2 separate regions of the Homo sapiens genome follow, and region 1 is reported to be linked to region 2. The links are microRNA targets in miRTarBase. Many come from high-throughput screens and were not tested one by one. Region 2 holds a microRNA gene; the other region holds the end of a gene's coding sequence.

Region 1 (5,381 bases), not on the chromosome of region 2:
TAGCCAGAGTGCAGCATGCTGTTTTCAACTTACCAAGTTAGGAACCTGTATTCAGGTTGGAACCACACATCCTCTTCCTTGAAGGATGGGACTTTATGTACCTGGGAAGTCGCTACTGCTTGTGGAAATTTAGGCCTTCTCTCTCTCTCTGTCTGGATGTGTCAAGGATCCCCATGACTGAGTTAAAACAACTAGAGGGTAGTGAGAAGGGTCGGAGAAGTAGCAGGAGTAACGGGAAGTAGAGGCAGCTTTAAGGTGACTGCCTTGCTACAGGGGAAGATGTTTCCAACCTCTGGAGGTAAAGGGGAGAGAGGGCTTAATCCTTATGAAGAAGTTCTGGCCCAAACCAGGTCCCAGCCTCCTGGCCCTCAGGCTGTGATTGGAACCACGATCCGGGGAGAGGGACCCTCATGGCCCAAGGAAAAGATACTGGTCCTCATTTAGCAGACGGCAGACTCTCTGCCCACAGAGTGTGTTTTTCCACACTGTGGTGTCTCCAGAGCCAAGGTGGTACCTTTCACCAATAGGTGCTCAATAAATTCTTGCTAAATTAATAACTGAAGAGTGGTTAAACTAGTAACAGTAACAACAGAAGGATTTTCAAACTGCCTGGGGCCCCTGCTGGTGAAAAAAAAAGGGTTTGGGCAAGAGTGACAACCATAATTCGACCAGTGGAGCCTCTAGCCATAGAAATGCTGTTTTCTTAGTGATTATGATAGTACTATAGCCTGAAGCTGCAGTTGCAGCTTCAGCAGTGCCTAGAGAATCACCTTTTACACAGCTCTTTTAATCTAACTTTGAAGGCTACATAATTAGTTGGTTAATAGATGCCACATTTCACAACACGTACATTGTAGTACCTGCTATAGTTAAATCATAGTATAATTCATAATTTTTACATTTATAAAATTGTAGCCAATGAATTAAAAATGTTGAAATCTTTTACACTATCATCTATGAAACTAGGAATATTTATTTAATTACATTGAAATCTTCAGAGAAATCAACTTCATAGCATTTTGTGGGGAAGCAATTTGTTCTACTCACAAGTAGGTATTAGGGTGTGTGTATGGGGGATATGTGTATGGGGGATAAGGCATGGAGATTTTTTAAAAGTTTTTATACTTTCCTGCTTCTTGGTAGAGATAGTGTCCTGACCTCCTTTTCCTGACAATGTTTGTATAAATAAAACCTTTCAGAGGGGGCCTCTTCAGGGTAGTCCTTGTTAAGACCTTGTCAAAGAAACAAAGTAGCTGTTTCTTTAAACTGCTGACACTACAACAATGCATATACAAAATCACTTTAATGGTTATTCATATAAGTAGATTTATATAGACAGAAAATAGCTCCATTTTTTTTTTTTTTTTTTTTTTTTTTTTTTTTGCCAAGCAAGCAAAACACAAGACCAATAGAATTAGTAGACAGAAGCCTTGGGGACAATGGCAGTGCCCTTTCTGAGTAAGACATGAATGCCATCTGGAGGATCCATTTGAAACTACAGTGCAGTAACCAAAGAACCTAATGTTTTCAAGCATAAAGGTACTTTTTGTGAACAGGTGGGCAACACAGGCAGGAATAACTACCTTCATTCTATGGACTTAAATTCCTATTTCTTTCTAGCTTCCAGTAGAAGACTCTTGAGAATATTGTTGTTGAGTGAAGTACTTTCCGCTGAAATGGGAAATGAACCCCTAGAGTCTTACAAGTATTATTAAGCATCAGTAAATACAGGTCAGGAAGAATTAGGCAAGAGAGAAGCAGGCAAATGTGTCCTGTTTGCTGTGTCCTGCCATCTCCTCTCCCTACACTGCATTTCATTCATGAGAGGATGTAAATGACTGATAGTTTAGTTTTTTCAAAGGTATTTACATTTTCATAGGTTGAAAGTCTAAATTAAGAGAGAGAGAGATAAAGTTAACCAGCAGAATTTCCAGTAGATATGTTGGAGGGGCTATGGTTGAATAAGCCATCTCCTTTATAAAATTGTTGATTATTCCTTTTAAACTAGGTCTGTTTCTTACTGATACACTAACTTTAACAAAAATGTTTTAAAAGGATTAATTCCTCAAAAGTCTGAGTAGTTAAAAACATCTGCATTTCCTAGTTTATTTCTAAGAAGATTCTGATATTCTGAGGGCATGTCATAGAGTCTCCTACCTCAATGCCTCTCAAATATCTCCTATTAAAAAACTGTTTCTAGGGCAGGCGTGATGGCTAATGTCTGTAATCCCAACACTTTGGGAGGCTGAGGTGGGCGGATCACTTGAGTTCAGGAGTTCAAGACCAGCCTAAGCAACGTGGCAAAACCCTGTCTCTACAAAAAATGCAAAAATTAGCCAGGTGTGGTGGCACGCGCCTGTAGTACCAGGTACTTAGGAGGCTGAGGTGGGAGGATTGCTTGAGCTGGGGAGGTCGAGGCTGCAGTGAGCCGTGATTGCATCACTGCACTCCAGCCTGGGCGACAGAGTAAGACCCTGTCTCAGAAAAAGAGATTAAAAAAAAAATTTCCAACCACTTGAGGGGCCAATACTTGTATAAATTAAAATTGTATGGCAATATCTTCATGCCTGTTCCTGTGCTCATCATGTCACAGGCCATTAACAATGTTCAGATTGGCACTGGTCTGTGCACCCATCTGATCATTGCTCTACCTCCGGTTCTCTCTTTTAAAAAATACGTGGATTTGAACTAAAGATCTCTGCCCACAATACCACCAGTTATATTCAAGAGCTTGACTTACACCTTCTTCCCTTCTGCTCTCTTCCCTCCCTTCTCCTTCCAACTTTCAAAATAAGTCTTTGAATCCGTAATAAAGAAAACTTCAAATAATTTCTAGTCCCTATTTTAAATTGACCTTCTACTAACAACGTATTTGCACAATTCCCCCATCCTCTTGTTCAGTTCAACCCAGTTCAGTTTTGCTAATTTTATTTGCCATAAATTTGTCCTAGACACCAGAAGCTTGTATAAGACACTTGGGTAACACAGAAGTTCAGATATTTGAGGATTAACAGGAGAAATCCATCTAAGAAAACAATGTAGCTGACAAGACGCATGCTTTCTTGATATAAAGATTATTGGAAAGCTTCAGTTGAATATGTTTGTTTGTGGCCAAAATAGATTGAGAAAGTCTTTTGATTGATAAGCAATTCTAGCTTTCTGAAGTTTCTTTCATTCACTAGTTGAAGAGCAATATATATTTTTTCTTATCCCAATAACCCAGAACAGAAAATTCTACATGAGCATATATTGTGTTCATACATTTCCATTTATAAGGCACAAAACCCACAAATCTCACAAAAAGGAAGAAAACAAAAGATTTGAAGACAATAAAGTAAACTCGGAGGAGGTTCATCAAACTGGAGTTAAATCATGTCCCTTTTTAGTAACTAAGGGACCTCATACTGACAGGAATCATTGCCTCTGAAAAGAGGGCTTCTGAGCCCTTCTTTTGACACAGCCTCCTTCACTGGATTAGTGCAGAAGTCAATCCTCAGGGAGGGCTGCATGGCCACAACACATCAATCCCAAGCACCACCTATCCCATAGAAGCTTCTGGGCAGCAATGCTCCAAACAAACCAGGGTGCCTGGTTCACATGTTCTCACCCAAAGGAGCCTTCAGGGACCAATCCACAGTAAACACACATGCTTGCCTATCCCAGTACTTGAGTATTTTATGGGTTCTGCTCTAAGCTGAAGCAGAACTGCCTGCCTGAGAACCCTGAACTAGGTTAGTTTTGTGGGTCCTTCGTGGGGCAGCATCTATGTAGGAGGCTGGACTTTGGGTTCCTCTTGAAATAATGAGGTCCCTAGAGGGATCCTTAGAACCAACTAATCCTACCAAGAGCTTTTAAAACATGCTGGTCAAATATGGCGATTCCCTGGTGCAACCCCCAGATCTCCTGGTCTGTTAGGCAGCCCTGATAACTCTCAAGTAATCCTGTAGTCCACTGGTAAAAAATAGATGGGTCCCATGATACCATATAGTATCTATGCTTATTGGCTGGGCCTCCTGGTGGCTCTTGGCACTGTAATTTCTAGTACTGTTTAGATTAGTATTATATGAGAATAAGCTTCCTGAATGTCCACATGAATCCAAGCATTTCCTGGAAGTATGACTGCTTCCTAGTCCTTTATATTACCATGCAAGGTAGGGATGTGAGTGAACAGCACGTCAGAGAAAACTGCCAGGTGTAGACAGTTATCCTGAGAAAAGGGTTAGTATTATAGTTGTCGAGAAAGGAGGGACCAGAAATCAGATGAACTGAGTAATTCATCATGTCATCTTGAAGGCTTTTCCACTCTGGACAATTTGAAATCCAAATGAAATTCGGTCCTTGGGTCAATTTATTCCATTACCAAAGAACAGCATAGTAGGATAGCCATTCCAACAGGGTGAGGACCAGCCACCTACTTACTTTCCAGTCCAATTTTATTATCCATTCAGCTTTTAGGAATTGCCCCTGGAGGCCATAGTCGGAATTTTGCTAAATTTTCAGGCATGAAGATGATTCTCCTTAATTCAATGTCTCATGAATCTTAGTCAAGATCCCTTCCCTTCCTGTGCCTTGTTAAGCTATGATCCAAAAGGAAAAGGAGTATTCCTTTTATTAACAACAACAAAACTCTTAAATCCTTTGGCTTTCAAACACTGCAGCTATAACATATCCTTGGATATATGTATTAATTTAAAAGCCAATGCCTTAAAAGTCAGCTTCTATTGTATCAAGTTTTCTCCAAATTATGAGGGGCTTCCTCCACACGTTGCCCCACTTGCCAGCCTCAGGAATCTTTCTTGGTCAGTCTGGCCTTGACTTTGTGCCTCAGAAGGGCTGCGGTGGCAGCACTGCAGGCAGCCAGGAAGAAGAAGGAGAGGCAGGCCATGTGGACAGATAGGGGTCCATGGCGCTGCAGGAAGATCTCCTGCCGCCCCTGGTAGTCCAGGAGGATGGCCTCCAGCTGGGAGAGCGTACAGATGGACAGAAATGCATGGAAGATCTGATGCCCATGGCCCACGATGTCACAGGAACCCGGGAAGTACTTCTCAGGCACGGGGCAGGAGAAGAAATAAGCGCTAACCAGGAAGAAGAGGATCTGGAGGGTGTGGTACCAGGCTGCTTGCTCCTGGCAGCCAGCCAGGTGACAGAGCGCCACACGGTGTGCCACAGGGCTGATGTCTAGGATAAAAGCCAGACCTGCTGGCACCACTTGACAGATCTTCCTCATGACTGGATAAGGCCTCCGGTAACGATATTTGGCATAGCAACAGCCAGCACAAGATAACCAGCCACAGAAGGCAGCTGCTGGCAAGAAGAAAAGCCAGAACCGGTCATACCAGGCCTGGTCAGAGCTGTAGAAGAAATGAGCCAAAGCACTGCCA
Region 2 (5,381 bases):
CAGTTCCGGAATCATCTGTATGTAGTCCTGTCTGTTGGTCAGCATGTCCTGCAGGTCCCAGTATTCCTCCTGTAGCCTGGCTCTTTCTTGCATCCTGGCACCCACAGGTTCCCAAGGCGCGGTGGAGGGACACTCGTAAAAGGTCTCGCTGTGATCACTGTCTCCAGCCTGCTGAAGCTCAGAGGGCTCTGATTCAGAAAGATCATCGGATCCGTCTGAGCTTGGCTGGTCGGAAGTCTCATCATCTGCTTCCTTCGGGTTAAACACGTCGGCCAGGTCTGAGTATGGGTGTGGCAGTCCGGGTAGCAGGCTCATGCCGTGCCTCTCTAGGGCAATGCATGGCGGGGGCGGGCGGAAGCAGTTCTTCAGGCAGTAGGGAGAGTGGAAGGTGCAGCGGCCTTTGATCCAGTCGACTTCGGGGGCGTGGACTCGGAGCCAGCGGATGCCTAGGACCACAGAGAAGTTCGGTGAAGGTACGATGTCAAATTCGATGGACTCCTGGTGGTTCTGGTGGATACACACCAGGGGCTCCGTGTAGAGCCAGACAGGCTCGTTGCCAATCAGCGAGCCGTCCACGGATTGGACCGGCTGTGGGTACGGCTTCTCGTAGAGCTCGACGTAGTGCTCTTGGGCGAACTTCTCATCCATGAAGTTGCCGTCAGCTCCCGAATCCACCAGGGCCTGGACCGCGACGCTGTGGTAGGGGTTCACTCTCACCATGAGCAGCAGGAAGAGGTGGGCGCGATTGATGTCCGGATGGACTTCGCTGGGCAACCAGCTGCTGACCATCCACCTCTCTGGAGCAGGTGAGTCGATCCAGGTCAGGTTCCGGGGGCGGGCCTCGGGGGGCAGCCTGAGCATAGCTCTTCTCTCTGCCAGCTTCTCTTCTATTTGCAGGATGAGCACAATCAGACTGTCTAGGGAATCCGGCTGAGGGACCCGGAATAGATAGTGCCTGATCTCCTCGTTGAGCCCCTGGCACAAGTGGGCCTGCAGGACTTCATCTGGCCAGCCCAAGATGGGTACCAGGCTCTGGAACTCATCGATGTACTCAGTGGCAGAGCGGCCGCCCTGCCTGATGGTGAACATGGCCTCTTCTGCCACACGCAGTGCCTGGCGGTACTCAAACACTTCGGACATGGCCTCCAGGAAGGCTGGGAAGTCTCCGATCAGGGGGCTGTTTTCCTGCAGTAGAGCTTTGGCCCATTCTAATGCCAAGCCGGACAGGTGATTGATGACATAGCCAACTCTCAGACGGTCGTTATAGAACATTCTTGGGTAGCTCTGTAAGGTCAGTTGGCAGAGTACGATGAACTCGTGGAATTCTCTGCGATCGCCAGAGAAGTGCTTTGGGGCGGGCAGTTGGCCTGCATTGATCCCTTTGATCAAGATCTCTTCTGCTACTCTCTGTTGCTCTTTGAGGTCTTGCATTCGGAAGTACAGCGAGATGATGGACCTCACCATGGCCATAAGTTCTGCGGTTGAGTGCTCGGTCTGGTTTTGCTCTTGAGGAGTCTCCTCCCTTCCCGATTCCTTCAGGTCAGTGTGAGCCTCTTGTTCTTCTCGGGCTCCCGATGGGTTGACTGATGCTTCTTTCATCCTATCAGATGCTCCACTGAGTGGATCCCCCCTTGCCTGGTGTGAACCGTTGCATGACTCCTCCAGGTCTTGGAGTAGGTCATTGGGTGGATCCTCTATTTCCTTACGTGGGCCACTGGATGGCTCCTCCATGTCTTGGAGTAGATCAGTGGGCAGCTCTTCCATTTCCTGGAGTGGGCCACTGGGGGGCTCCTTCTTTTCCTGGGCTGGGCCGCTGGCTGGCCCTGCCTCTCCCCGCACTCCACTGCCCGACGTCGCCTCGGTGGTGTTGGATGAGCCCTCGGAGGACTCCATTTGTTTTGATGATGGATTCTTATGCTCCATCATCGTCTCAAATGAGTCTTCAGAGGGTTCTATCATTTCGTCGGATGGAAAGGAGTGTATTCTGAAGATTGGTAAGGTTGTGATGGCGTCCAGTCAGTAGCTGGGACCGTGGAGATCAGAACCTGGTGGTGGAAGGGGAGTGTGGGGAGTAAAGGCAGTAGTTTAGGATCTTGTGAAGTGGCAGTATCAGGGTCTCAAGGACAAATCAGATGCCCAACTAATCAGAGCAGAGAGAAATGGGGGAAAGCCTTCTTGTATCGAGCCAGCCTCTTTGGCTGGTCACTTGGGGTGCCCCCAGGGAGGGAAGATCTGTCAACCCCTGACCTGCCTCCCAGGCTTATTCAGTCTGCCTGTCCTGTCCTTTTCCTCCATAGATGTGAGAAATTCACAGCCCATAAATTCTGTGGCTGGGAGCAGCCACCGTGGCAGGCGGGTACCTGGCAGGGTGCACAGGCTGCTCCATTCCCCCCTGGCACATGCACCTGGTCAATCCTCTTTTCCTGCTTTGGTCACCTGAGAATCACAGAGGTCACATCTCAGCACCATCCAAAGCCACCCCTGGCAGGCTCAGGGCTCTGGAGCAAGCCCAGCCACCTTGGTTGTGGAGCGGGAATCTCTAGCAAAGATGCCTACTGTTTCACCAGTGCAGTGGAAGAGGAGAAAATGGGCACTTGGCCACTGTCCCGTCAGTTGGGTCAGCAGCCCAAAATAGTTCTTATTTCCTTCCCCATGTTCAAAATAGAAATTTCAGGGGGTGTGTACAGGTCTGGGTTTTTTTTTTTTTTTTCCATAAATTTTATAACATACCTACTATGTGCTGGATAACTGCATATTTGTTACTTGATTCTAACTCAGACTTTTGGCCAATTTCTCTTTCTCGATTTGGTCTCCTTCCAATGCTATGTTCTCCCGACCTCTGAGCTGTTGAGGAGATCTTCAAATAATCTCCTTCTCTTCCTACAATCTCCACTCTCCCAGGACTGCCCTCTTTGTGAGGCTTCTGGAACTTCACACATCTGGCCTCAATTTCACCAGTGCAAGCATATCTGCACGCCTCTCCAATCTTATCCTCCCAGGTCCCCTTCTTAACGCCAGTGGGTCTGGTCTCCTCTTTCTAGCAAATATCTTTTTCTCTCTGTTGCTGGTTGAGCCCTCCCAACAGACATGTATCTGGCAGAGTTGGGACATTGAGTGTGGGGGTTGGGGGGAACATGTGACATCTTTGGAATCTGACGGTCCCAGAGTGGATTTTTGGAAATCTAGTGTTGGGTGGTTTTAGTGGGCTGAGACAGAATTGAAAGGGAATGTCTTGGTTGGGGTTATTTGCACATTTCTTCTCTGCTGGGGCAGAGCAAATTAAGCTTTGATTATCTGATAGATTAACTGTAAAGCTACTGCTCTTTATAAATTTAACACCTTTTGTTACTTCTGAGTTTTCTTCTAAGCCACTGGACCCATCCGTAAAAAAAAAAAAAAAAACTGCGTTCCCCCTTACGTGAAACTCATTGGCTAAAATCCAAGCTTTCCAACAGGATACAAAATTCAGATCTGCTGTTTCTCAAAATTAAGTACACCCTTGTTAGCATGACACTTAAATTTGATCATGCAGTCTCTCTGATTAAAGCCTTCCACTGTTTATTTACTGTCTGCAATATTAAATCCAAACCTTCTAGCGTAAACATATCTGACATGTAAACTCACCAAAACTATTCTCTGGTTAAAATGTAAGGGCCTTAATATAATATAAAATTCTTATTTTGTCATTCCTCAAGGTAGAGATCACATTTTTTTAAAGCACAGTATACAAATCAGCATGGTATAGGAATTATAAGAATCATCATCATCATCATCATGATGTACATAGCACATTGCAGAAATTAACTCATTTCCTCTCCATAAAAGTCCTCTGAGATATGCATTATTACTGTAAAATTCCAAACCTCTAATATAAAATTCTAATTGAAATACAAATAAATAATTCTAATTGAAATACAAAAACTAAGTAATTCATCTGCAGACTTATCTATCAGGAATAAAAATCTCAGCATGTCTCTCACTTAAAACTCTTTATTGGTGAAAATTTAAATTTCTTAGCAAGACGATTTAAAAACTAGATTATGCCCCCTCTTAATATAAAGTCTACACTGCTTAACATATTTACAAATTCGACCATGTGAATGATTAAATCCTTCAATGTTCCTGCCTTCAGCTCAAAATCTAATATCCTCGGCATGTTAGAAAAATCTTAATACTTCTTAACATCAAAGTTTAAACTGTTAGCAAGATGAATAAAGGTCATCTCATAATTTCTCTATTTAACACATATAAAAATTCATTTTTATTGCCTGTAAAGTTTCAACCACTTAGCATAAAATGAAAATTTTCACCGTGTAATTTACTTGCCAACTGATTAATACGAACCCCCAAATCTCATCAGGTCACTCCTAAAACCCTTTATTGGCTTAATTCCAAACCTCTTCGCATGATATAAAATTCTGACCATGTCATTCCTCAAAATAAAAAGGTCACTCTCCCTTGCAAGATACACGAATTTGCTCTTATAACTTCTGCTTAAAGCTTTATTCTATCTCTTAATTACCTATGAGATAAGGTCTAATTATTTTTAGCATAGAACAATACATTTTACTATAAAATTTCTCTGACTACTCTACCCAAGACAAAATTTCTGCCATGTTACTGCCTTAAAAATCTCTTAATGAGCCAGGCACGGTGACTCACAGCTGTAATCCCAGCACTTTGGGAGGCCAAGGCAGGTGGAACACTTGAGGTCAAGGGTTCTAGGTCAGCCTGGCCAACATGGTGAAATCCTGTTTCTACTAAAAATACAAAAATTAGCCGGGAGTAGTGGCTCATGCCCGTAATCCTAGCTACTTCTCCTAGGCTGAGGCGGGAGAATCGCTTGAACCTTGGAGGTTGCAGTGAGCCGAGATTGCGCCGCTGCACTCCAGCTTGGGCAACAGAGGGAGATTCCCTCTCAAAAAAAAAACAAGACTCTTAATGGCTGAAGTCCAAATTCCTTAGCATGGCATAAAAATGTAATTCTGTCATCCCTCAAAATAGTGTCCAAACTTCTTAGCATGCTATGTAAATTTAATCATATAACTTCTTTTTATAAAAACATGCTTTGTCTATAAATGACCCGTCTCCTCAGCATGGAGCCCAGCCTGGGTGCCCTTGTGCCCAGGGGATACCTCTGCTCACGAGTGGTCTGATGCTTATTCATTATCTGGTTCAGCAAATCCAGATACCTTAACTTAAAATATGTTTACAATCCAGTTTCTCTGGAGACAAAACCCTCATCAATTTACTTCTTAAAACGCTTTACTGGCTGACATCCGAACGCCTCTGCATGAGATTTCAACAATGAGCTCAATGAGCTCATCCCCCACCCCTTCCAAACACAGCACTTGAATGCCTTCAACTCTTTTGTAAAATCA

What was found. The annotated mature microRNA hsa-miR-136-5p reads ACUCCAUUUGUUUUGAUGAUGGA and lies in region 2 at 1,887-1,909, shown strand. An mRNA with a match to its seed (bases 2 to 7 or 8) in the 3' UTR can be bound and repressed. Matches are read on the target gene's strand: a 7mer-m8 pairs with bases 2 to 8, a 7mer-A1 pairs with bases 2 to 7 and ends in A, and an 8mer does both.
Region 1: the mRNA of PAQR8 is a reported target of hsa-miR-136-5p. Seed matches in the 3' UTR shown: 7mer-m8 at 1,347-1,353.

What each region holds. Positions count from the first base shown.
Region 1 is chr6:52,403,681-52,409,061 of GRCh38, reverse strand. It overlaps PAQR8 (progestin and adipoQ receptor family member 8), which reads right to left. Exons shown (of 2, transcript NM_133367.5): 2 at 1,285-5,381. The coding sequence ends at 4,784. Among named protein-coding and RNA genes, the nearest start is that of EFHC1, 14 kb to the left of the region's middle.
Region 2 is chr14:100,882,830-100,888,210 of GRCh38, forward strand. It overlaps MIR136 (microRNA 136), which reads left to right and starts at 1,873; the gene lies at 1,873-1,954. RTL1 (retrotransposon Gag like 1) reads right to left here. Exons shown (of 4, transcript NM_001134888.3): 4 at 1-2,045. The coding sequence starts at 1,959. MIR127 (microRNA 127) reads left to right here and starts at 150; the gene lies at 150-246. It overlaps MIR432 (microRNA 432), which reads left to right and starts at 1,654; the gene lies at 1,654-1,747. RefSeq lists a silencer at 2,863-3,157.